2 separate regions of the Homo sapiens genome follow, and region 2 is linked to region 1. Evidence: fine-mapped QTL for protein levels in blood plasma. A gene starts in region 1. The other region holds a variant in brackets. All regions are shown on one strand. Distances are between the middles of the regions.

What was found. PIP is the posterior inclusion probability: the model's chance that the variant is causal. The UK Biobank Pharma Proteomics Project read protein levels with antibody pairs (Olink). The fine-mapping took linkage between variants from a reference panel, not from the people measured, so its PIPs are less certain.
Region 2: its variant is fine-mapped to the plasma level of the IL32 protein (UK Biobank, PIP above 0.99).

Annotation. Positions count from the first base shown.
Region 1 is chr16:3,062,590-3,067,954 of GRCh38, forward strand. It overlaps IL32 (interleukin 32), which reads left to right and starts at 3,051. Exons shown (of 7, transcript NM_001376923.1): 1 at 3,051-3,098; 2 at 3,195-3,237; 3 at 4,788-4,826; 4 at 4,965-5,024. The coding sequence starts at 3,223. RefSeq lists enhancers at 2,545-2,854, 5,193-5,365.
Region 2 is chr16:3,134,750-3,140,114 of GRCh38, forward strand. It overlaps ZNF213 (zinc finger protein 213), which reads left to right and starts at 280. Exons shown (of 6, transcript NM_004220.3): 1 at 280-638; 2 at 2,417-2,930; 3 at 3,669-3,792; 4 at 3,996-4,069; 5 at 4,226-4,349. The coding sequence starts at 2,532. It overlaps ZNF213-AS1 (ZNF213 antisense RNA 1), which reads right to left and starts at 133. Exons shown (of 6, transcript NR_110900.1): 1 at 1-133. RefSeq lists enhancers at 1-30, 41-230, 3,715-4,215 and a silencer at 341-570. The variant G/A (reference allele first, on the strand shown) is at 2,979.

The sequences.
Region 1 (5,365 bases):
GAAAGTAGATAAGCCCAGACGCAGTGGCTCATGCCAGTAATCTCAGCATTTTGGGAGGCCAAGGCGGGCAGATCACTTGAGGTCAGGAGTTCGAGACTCCTTGGCCAACATGGTGAAATCCCATCTCTCCTAAAAATACAGAAATTAGGCCAGGCTGAGTGGCAGAACAAGACTCCACCTCAAAAAAAAAAAAAAAAAAAATTGTCACGTGATACCATTTCAGCCCATTGGGATGGCTGGAATTGAAAAGACACAGAGAATAACAAGTATTGCTGAGGTTGTAGAGACACGGGAACCCTCGCACACTGCTGCTGGGAATGTAAAATGACAGACATTTTGAAAAATAGTCTGGCTGTTCCTCAAAAGGATAAAAACACATTTACCATGTAACCCAGCTATTCTTCTGCTTCATACATATGAAGTGAAAACATACGTCTGCACAGAAACTTGTACGTGAATGTTCATAGCAGCATTATTCGGAATTAGCCAAAAAGTGGAAAGAACCCAAATGTCCTTCGAGGGGTGAATGGAGAAACCAAATGTGGTCTATCCACACAGTAGAATATTATTCAGCCAGAAAAAGGAATGAAGGAATAATGCGTGTTACAACACGGATGAACCTCAAGAATAGCATGTTCAGTGAAAGAAGCTAGACACAGAAGATCACCTAGTGTATAATTCTACTTATAGGAAATGTCTGGGAGAGAGGCATCCATTGAGAGAGAAAGTAGATGAGGCCAGACACAGTGGCTCATGCCTGTAATCCCAGCACTTTGGGAGGCCAAGGCGGGCAGATCACTTGAGGTCAGGAGTTCGAGACTCCTTCATCAACATGGTGAAACCCCGTCTCTACTAAAAATACAAAAATTAGCTGGGTGTGGTGGCACGTGCCTGTAATCCCAGCTACTCGGGAGGCTGAGTCAGGAGAATTGCTTGAACCCAGGAGGCAGAGGTTGCAGTGAGCCGAGATCGTGCCACTGCCCTTCAGCCTAGACAACAGAGCGAGACTCTAAGAAAAAAAAAGAAAAAGAAAAAGTAGATGAGTGGTTATCCAGGGAAATGAGGACTGGCAGTGATGTCTCAGAAGGGCAGAATTTCTCTTAGAGGTGATAAAAATGTTCTAAAATGGGTTGTGGTGATAGCTGCACAGTTCTGTGCTTTGAATTGTACAGCTCAATGAGTGAATTGCATTGCCTGTAAATTGCATCACCATAAAGCTATAAAAACAGGGTACATACAGTCTGGGTGGATCCCAAGATGTCTTCAGATGGTGGCCTTTGAGAGTCATGAGGGGCTAGGGTTGGAGCTGAAGCCTAAAGCATGACTTTTAGCTGGTGCAGGAGTGGCTTCCTTCTGTCTCCCACTACAATTCAGAGGATACTCAGGGAAAGATCTGGACATCCTGTATGTGGAAAGGCGGTTGCGCACAGTGGAATGGACTCCTAAGTGGCAGGCAGGTGACAACCGTTGTCTACTTCACCCAAGGGAAGATTTCTCCATGGAGCGTGTTTTATAGGTTCTGTCTCTCCGAGTCCCCTTTGAGAATATAATGGGATACATTGCATCCATGCTGAATTCCTAAGCCCCAGGACCTCAGAATATGCCCTTATTTGGAAACAGGGTCTTTATGGAGGTACTTAAGGTACAATGAGGTCACTGGGGTGGATCCTACTTCTTTTTTTTTTTTTTCCGAGGGGAATTTTCATTGTTGTCCCCCAGACTGGAGTGCAGTGGCACCATCTCAGCTCACTGCAACATTCGCCTCCCGGGTTCAAGTGATTCTCCTGCCTCAGCCTCCCGAGTAGCTGGGAATACAGGTGCCGGCCACCACGCAAGGCTAATTTTTGTATTTTTAGTAGAGACAAGGTTTCACCATGTTGGCCAGGCTGGTCTAGAACTCCTGACCTTAGGTGATCTGCCCGCCTCGGCCTCCCAAAGTGTTGGGATTACAGGCGTGACCCACTGCGCCCGGCCTAGGGTGGACCCTATTTCAATATGACTGGTGTCCTTTGGAAAGGGGAAAGGGGGACAGTCACACCCAGGCAGAACGTGATGAAGATGAAGATGGCCATCTACAAGGGCAGGAGAAACCTGAACAGAATCCCAGCTCCGGGCCCTCAGAAGGACCCCACGCTGCCCACATTGACCTTGGACCTCCAGCCTGCAGATCGTGAGGGAAGAGACGTCTTCGACTTAGGGCCCCTTGTCGTGGTACTTCCTTAGTTTGGCCCCAGGAAACCATCCCAAAGGCAAGGGCGTGGTTGTGCTCAGCTGGGGGAAGGGGGCTGGGGGCCGTGAGGAGGAGGTGGGAGGCCCAGCCAGGCTGGAGGGTCAGAACCCGTGGAGCTAGAAGAGCCCGTAGGGGAGCCCCAAGATTGCTGAGACCAGTGACCTTCGGCCCCAGATGGCCTTGCCTTGGCCCAGAAGGGTCAGAAGGACCTGGTCAGCCAAGCTCAGACAGCCGGCAGGATGCCTTCCACCCTGCAGAGGGTCCTATCTTGTCCCACAGGTAGATCTACATCACCACTAGCCACCCCTCCAACGTGCACAGGCCCCTGCCCTCACGGCGCCCCTCTTAGGTCCGGCAGTTCCTGCCTCCTTCTGATCCAGAAGTTTCTCTGGCCTCTGGAGCCGGGGCACACCTCATGCAAGGACAGGGTCCAAATTCCTTTGTCCTTGGATCCCACTTGGCTGACGTCACCTTCCTGTACTCAGGGAGTTTCCCCAGCCAGCTGTCCCGAGTCTGGACTTTCCCTCTGCCCCTCCCCACTCTCAGGCTGGTGGGGTGGGGAAAGCAGCCCATTCCTGGGCTCAGAGACTCCCACCCCAGCTCAGAGGGAGCAGGGGCCCAGCCAGGGACGGACCCTCATTCCTCCCAGGGACCCCAGACCTCTGTCTCTCTCGGGTAAGTCTCCATCTCTGTCTGTCTCTGTCTCTGTCTCTGTCTCTGTCTGTTTTTCACGCACTCAGCAAGGCCTCCTGCCCTGAGAGAGGCTCCGCCCACTACCCCCCACTTTCCCCATAAAACCAGCTGAGTATTTGTGCCAGGAAGACTGCGTGCAGAAGGTGACTGTCTCAGTGGAGCTGGGTCATCTCAGGTGGGGAGTTGGGGTCCCCGAAGGTGAGGACCCTCTGGGGAGGAGGGTGCTTCTCTGAGACACTTTCTTTTCCTCACACCTGTTCCTCGCCAGCAGGCCTTGGCTCCTTGAACTTTTGGCCGCCATGTGCTTCCCGAAGGTGAGTGAGAGGCTGCGTGTGCTTTTGTGGGCATGTCTGAAAACAGACCGTAAGGGTGCGGGTGCCCTCAGTATTTCCCGAGGTGCCTGTGTGTCAGGGCTCAGTCAGGGGCACCCAGCGGCAGGAGGATAGTGATGGGGTGAGAGTGTCAGTGGAGGCGCTGGAGGTCATATGTGTCGGGGGCGCTGGAGAACGGCAGGGGTGTGGATGAGAGGGAGCACCTGTCCCAGGAGCCCTTCACAGCCCGGAAAGCCCGGGGCAGGGGTGGGGCAGGGCTCTGCTGGAAACGACTCGGAGAATGCTTCTCTCAGAGGCCGGCTCAGCTGGGTGGGCCCAAGAGCAAGGCCTGTGTGGGTCCTGGTGTCTCTTCCTCCTTTCCTGGGTTCCCTCCGACCTCCCATCCTCTACCACTGCCCCACCGCAAATGCTAGGCCCACCACACCCTCCAGGGAGCTCTTCGGCCTGTGACAATAGGGGTTTCCATGATGTGGCCTGGCTCAGGTTCAGGACAGTGACCCGGAGGACACATGGCTCCCGCATGTCGGCACGGTGCTGCTTTCACCCTGGTTCCTGGGAAATCAGGCTAGCGGGATGGGACCATCGCTGCCTGAAAGTGTGCAGACAGCTGCCCTGCCCAGAATATGTCCCCAGGCCCTGCGCACTCTGTGGGTGACTGTCACCACTCTATAGTGGGGGAAACCAGGCATGTCACCCCCGAGACTAGGCCCTTGACGTGGGGGCTCAGCGGGGATTCTGTGGGGTGCCTCTGGCCTCTGTGGATGCAGCCACGTGTCTGCAGGCAGGAATGGCCCGGGACCTGTGGGTCTGCATGTTGGCAGTCGGGAAGAGTGGCAGGTTGTAGGGTGGACCTACCTGGCACCCCAAATATTAATCAGCTCATCAGAGAGGAATGGCTGCTGTTACCTTCTCAATTGTCATGTCCCTAAACATTTTTTCCTTGGCCAACTCTCACCTGGGACCATAGTGGTTGTGGGAAACCCAGCTGAGCCAGCCTGCTCCAGGACAGTGTCCATCCTCCCGTGTGTGTACATGGGGGGGTGTGTGTGTGCAGGGAGGACACCCCGGCCCACGCAGGCCCTGCTCTTGTGAGGAGGGGTCACCTAGGCCCACGCAGGCCCTGCTCTTGTGAGGAGGGGTCACCTAGGCCCACGCAGGCCCTGCTCTTGTGAGGAGGGGTCACCTAGGCCCACGCAGGCCCTGCTCTTGTGAGGAGGGGTCACCTAGGCCCACGCAGGCCCTGCTCTTGTGAGGAGGGGTCACCTAGGCCCATGCTGGCCCTGCTCTTGGGCCTGCCCAGCTGAGCCGGCTCCTGAGAGAAGCGCTTTCTGAGTCGTTTCGAGGACAGCCCTGGCCGGTCTTTCCAGGCTGTGAGGGGCTCCTGGGACTGCTGTCTCCTCTTATCCTGTACCTCTGCCATGTGTCTCTGTGTGTGTGTGTGTGTGTGTGTGTGTGTGTGTGTGTGTATAAATTATCCTGGAGGAAAGGTTAAGGTGACACATGGAGACTGAGTGTCACCGTTATTTCCGCAGGTCCTCTCTGATGACATGAAGAAGCTGAAGGCCCGAATGGTAATGCTCCTCCCTACTTCTGCTCAGGGGTTGGGGGCCTGGGTCTCAGCGTGTGACACTGAGGACACTGTGGGACACCTGGGACCCTGGAGGGACAAGGATCCGGCCCTTTGGTGCCAACTCTGCCTCTCTTCACAGCACCAGGCCATAGAAAGATTTTATGATAAAATGCAAAATGCAGAATCAGGACGTGGACAGGTGGGTGGATTTCCCCTCAGGCACCAGGTCACATGTCCCCGCCCCCAGGCACTCCACCCTGTGTGGGGCTCAGGGTGAGAAGGATGAAGAGGGACCCACAGGCTCCCTCACCCCTTACCGTGGGCAAATGCTTGCACCTGGGTGGCAGTGAGTGGGCGGGTGGGGGATCTGGACGCCCGGGGAGACTGAGGGAGGCATCCAAGCCCCAGGGCTCCTTGAGGAAACAACAGGGGTGCCAGACGTGGCCCGGGCCCCTGGCTGGGCCCAGTTCGGGGTGTGTGGGAGCTGAGGACTCACTGGGCTTGAGGACTGACTGATGTGGGGTGCAGAGGAGGCTTGGG
Region 2 (5,365 bases), 72 kb after region 1:
CCTTGGCTTCCCCTTTTTGTCGCTCAAGGGCCAGGGTCGCAAGGAAATGTGAAAAAAAAGCGGAGACAAAAGAGAACGAGGTAAATCTAGATGCAGAGCCTCGCCTTTCCTCCCGGGTGCAGGTGTATGACGCGTATGGAGTTTCTGTCTTCTAATAGGCAGCCTGAGAATTCTTCCTGTTCATTGGCCATCGGTCATGGAGAAGGCGGGCTCAGTGGACGAACGGCTTTCTGGGAGCTGGGGAATGCTTGCGTAGCGTAGTTTCCCAGCGAGCCCCGCGAGGACTTCCGGCGCCGGGAGCTCGCGGCGGAAGTGGGATCTCCTGGGCCGTAGTGGGCGTTGTGTGTTTCGGGGGCGGGGGCGGGGGCGGGGGCCGGGGCGGGGACGGGGCCTCTGGCCGCCTGGCTCCAACATCAAGCACCGGGCTCCGAGTGGCCGGGATCAGCGCCCCGAGGCAGAGGCCGGAGGGCGCGCGCACTGCTAGGAAGTGCTGGTCCCCCGCGCCGCTCTGCCAGCTTGGTCCCCCGGCAGACGCCCCTGTACGATCGCCGCTCGCCCCGCGGGCGAGGCTGCGGTGGACAGCGCGGGGCTCCGGCTGGCTCGCCTTCCCGCCTGCCGTGTCCTGCTGAGCGACCCTGGTGAGTCCTGGCCCTCTTCGAGGAAAGTCTTCTTCGAAGTCACCAGAGGATGAGAATGGTGCGCGCACCTTTCAGGGGTCTTGTGAGGAGCAGAATAAATAAAGTGCTTAGGATGGACTAAAGAATTGGAAACAACCCGAATGCATCACTCGAGTATTGATTAAGAAACTAGAGCATATCCATACCGCGGAAGCTCATAGTGCCGCTAATGTCTGTGCAGTAAGGTCTCATTTATGTAGAAACACATCAAGCACCTTTTCTCCCCGCTATGGATGACTTTTTTAGTAAAAGCACAGGAAAAGGTCTGGGACGTCATTTGTCAGACTGTTAAGTCGGGGGGTACAATGGTATTGAGGAAGGGAGAGTTTTACAGATTTCTATATTGTTTGAATCTTCCCTTTTTTATTAAGATGGTTTGTATTTTTTTCATTTTCTTTTTACTTTTCTTTTCTTTCTTTTTTTTTTTTTTTTGAGATGGTCTCACTCTGTTGCCCAGGCTGGAGTACAGTGGTGCGATCATAGCTCATTGCAACCTCAAACTCCTGGACTCAAGCAATCTTTCCTCCTCAGCCTCCCCAGTAGCTGGGACTACAGGAGCCCCACCTGGCTTTTTTTGTTTTTTGGTACAGATGGCGTCTCACATTGTCTTCCCAAAGGGGTCTTGAACCCCTGGCCTCAAGCAATCATCCTGTGTCTGTCTCCCAAAATGCTGGGATTACAGGCATAAGCCACCAAGCCCGGCCAGTTTGTATTTTTATTGTTGAAACAAAAAATCGATTACTGAAAATTGCATAATACACTTTTCAGTAGAGAGTAACAATGTAAGGTATAAATGTGTCATACATTTATATGTACCTGTGGATAAATGGCTTTGGATGGTGTCTGTAAGCCCTTCTGTGACACCTCAGGGCCAGATGTGTTTTGGAATTCAGAGGTTTTCAAATTTGAGAAAGATAATATAGTGCACAGACGATATATCAAGCACATCTCCAGAGGGATCTGGGGCAACACTAAATAATGAAACATATCAGTTAAAATTTTTTAATTAGGCCGGGCGCAGTGGCTCACGCCTGTAATCCCAGCACTTTAGGAGGCCGAGGCGGGTGGATCACAAGGTCAGGAGTTTGAGACCATCCTGGCCAACATGGTGAAACCTCGTCTCTACTAAAAATACAAAAAATTAGCTGGACGTGGTAGCTGGTGCCTGTAGTCCCAGCTACTTGGGAGGCTGAAGCAGGAGAATCGCTTGAACCTGGCAGGCAGAGGTTGCAGTGAACTGAGATTGCGCCACTGCACTCCAGCCTGGGCGACAGAGTGAGACTCTCTCTCAGTAAAAAAAAAAAAAAAAGATATTTAATTGATGTATAATGTGCAATACAGAAAAACACACGAGTGGGTATAGCTCAATGAAATTTTATAAACTGAAGATATATGTTATTAATATTTCCACCATAATTTTGAACATTTACATTTAGTGGAATAAATTGAGATTATAAATATGCTTATATCAGGTCAGGTGGTGCTGCCAAATGAATGACATTGGGTTTTGCTGTCAAAGAGTTATGAAACACCCGGGTTTTGGATTTCTGGCTTTGGGATGAGAGCTTGTGGGCCTGTGTTAATAGGAGAGACAGTCACATGAGCAAGGCATTACAGTAAAGCCTAGAAAAGGCTTCAGGGCCATGAAAGGATGGGGACTGGATGGCTCTTCAGCCTGGGGTTTGCTCGTGTATTCCACATCCTTCCTCCTCAGTCCTGCCATTTTGCTCTTTCCCCAGGAGTACACATCCAGATGCCAGCCCAGCTACCACAGGGGATCCCTCTGGGAGACTGAAAGTACAGGTTCTGGGGCCCAGGTTGAAGCCGACCAACCCTGAGCCTCAGGCCAGGGGAATGGCAGCCCCCTTGGAGGCCCAGGACCAGGCCCCTGGGGAGGGAGAAGGGCTTCTGATTGTGAAAGTGGAAGATTCCTCCTGGGAACAGGAATCTGCCCAGCATGAGGATGGCAGGGATTCCGAAGCCTGCCGCCAGCGCTTCCGGCAATTCTGCTACGGGGATGTGCATGGGCCTCATGAGGCCTTCAGCCAGCTCTGGGAGCTCTGCTGCCGCTGGCTGCGGCCCGAGCTGCGTACCAAGGAGCAGATCCTGGAGCTGCTGGTGCTGGAGCAGTTCCTGACAGTGCTGCCAGGGGAGATCCAGGGCTGGGTGCGTGAGCAGCACCCGGGAAGCGGTGAGGAGGCTGTCGCCTTGGTGGAGGACCTACAGAAGCAGCCAGTGAAAGCCTGGCGACAGGTGAGGGGCCCTTCCACATCCAGGGGCACCTGGATGGTATCTGAGCTC[G/A]AGAGAAGTGGGTAACCTGCAGAGATAAGTCTCCCAGAGGCTCACAGGGTAGGGGAGACACAGAGCCCCCAGGAGCAGGCACACAAGCACAGTGTGCCATGGGTGCCTTTCTGAAAGATGCGATCCAAAGTAAATGTGATTTATTTTTTGTGGCTTTGGAAGGCAGCAATAGGGCTGAAGTGCGAATGTTCCAGACAGGAGGTTTTAGCTCCATGCAGGGTCTGCTGATGTTTATTTGCATTTTGCTCTAGGCCTGGCTCTGGGGACACAAGGGTGTGCATAGAGCCAGCTCCAGAGTGGGGCGAGAAGGTGGAGCTGTCCGGGGCCTCTGCTACCTTGTGGGATGTTGGGTCCTTCACATTGGATGCATCTGGGGAGGTTCTAATGAGTGGCTGGGGGATGGGGTTCTGCCTTTGGCAGGAGGGTCCCCAGCTACCCCCTTGCTAAGTGGCTGTGATTCTGGCCTTTCAGGGCTGGTTCTTGCCTCGTGAATGATCGGGGAGCATCCTTGGGCACACAGCATTACCTGGTATCACATTCTCCTCCGGACTTTTCCTGGGGCACCATATTGGTCTCCTTCCCACACCCCAGCATCCTGAGGGTCATGTCCTGTGTCTCCTTCCCAGGGAGTAAACTCTGTCTCCCCCGGTCTGGTCTCGGGCTGATGAGCATGTTGTGGTTCCTGCACAGGATGTGCCCTCGGAGGAGGCGGAACCCGAGGCTGCAGGCCGGGGATCCCAGGCCACGGGGCCTCCCCCGACGGTGGGGGCACGGAGGCGGCCGTCTGTTCCCCAGGAGCAGCACAGCCATAGCGGTGAGTAAGCCTCCGTTCTTGTGGACAGTCGAGTGGCTGGGCAGGGACCTAGCTTTGTCACCGGCGTTGCCCTAAGGGTCACAGGCAGGACAGCTCCCTCTGTGAAGTCCAGGGCGTGTGTGCATGCGCACAGGCTGGGGAGGCCATAGGCGTCGGTGTCAAGCCTGGGCTGGCCTTTCTAAGGCTCCATTCTTCTCCTTCAGCCCAGCCTCCTGCTCTTCTTAAAGAGGGTCGTCCCGGAGAGACGACGGACACCTGCTTTGTCTCTGGGGTCCATGTGAGTCACCAGTCCCTTTGTCTTCTTTAAGGCACTTGGCCCTGTTGAGTTTGTAAAATGGGACTTGCTGTCCCATCAGGCCTCTTTCATCTGACCCATCCTGTCCCCGCCAGTGCTGCTGGGAGGCCTGAGCCGGGTCTTCTCACCCCATTCCAGGGACCTGTGGCATTGGGAGACATCCCATTCTATTTCTCCCGGGAAGAATGGGGCACCCTGGACCCTGCTCAGCGGGATCTCTTCTGGGACATAAAGCGGGAGAACTCCCGGAACACCACCCTGGGTAAGCACCCAGGGCCTTTGGGTCCAGGCTGGCCGCCCCCGATTCTGCTGGAACTTCAGTCTTGTTTCCCACCCCATCCTTAGCTGGTTCCAAAGCAGGCTCTCCCTAGGTCTTGCCAGGAGCCTGAGTAACTCCTTTCTTGGCTGATGATCAGTTTTTGTGCGTTTCCACATGCAGCATGGGACGGCGCCGGCGCTGCCCAGCCCTGCAGTTGCTCTAAGGGCAACTTCTCCTTTGAGTCTCACAACCTAGTGCATGGAAGTATTGTCCCCATTTTACGCATAAGGGACCTGAGACTCAGGTCAGTGGATGCTGAAGGGACACAGCTGGGACTTGGATCAGGCACAGTTGTGAGGCCACCTTGGGCTGCTAGGAGCAGGGGTGCTGACGGGGAACCCCAGCTGCTCACCAGCCTGGGCCCCTGCTCGTCAGAACTGCACTTACCAGGTTCCTCTCCATGCCAGGCCCCTTCTCAGCACCATCAGGGATCATCTTGTTCAGTCACACTCCCAGGAGGATGGGCTGCGACCTCTGTCCAGATCTGTGTTGAGTTTGGAGAACTAGAGCCTGCGTGGTGAAGGGAGCCACACTAGCTAGACCAGTTTGGCTCCTCAGTTTCCGACTGTGACGGTTGGGAAAAATTTTCTTTCTTTTTTTTTTTTTTGAGATGGAGTCTTGCTCTGTCGCCAGGCCGGAATGCAGTGGTGTGATCTCAGCTCACTGAAACTTCCACCTCCCGGGTTCAAGCAATTCTCCTGCCTCAGCCTGAGTAGCTGGGATTACAGGCATGAGCCACCATGCCCGGCTAATTTTTTTGTATTTTTAATAGAGACGAGTTTTCACCATGTTGGTCAGGCTGGTCTCGAACTCCTGACTTCATGATCCGCCTGCCTCAGCCTCCCAAAGTGCTGGGATTACAGGCGTGAGCCACCGCGCCCGGCCCTTGAAAAGTTTCAGAATTACTATAAATCTGTTCTGCTGTGGAGCTTGATATCTGGGGTTCAGAGTGGGACATT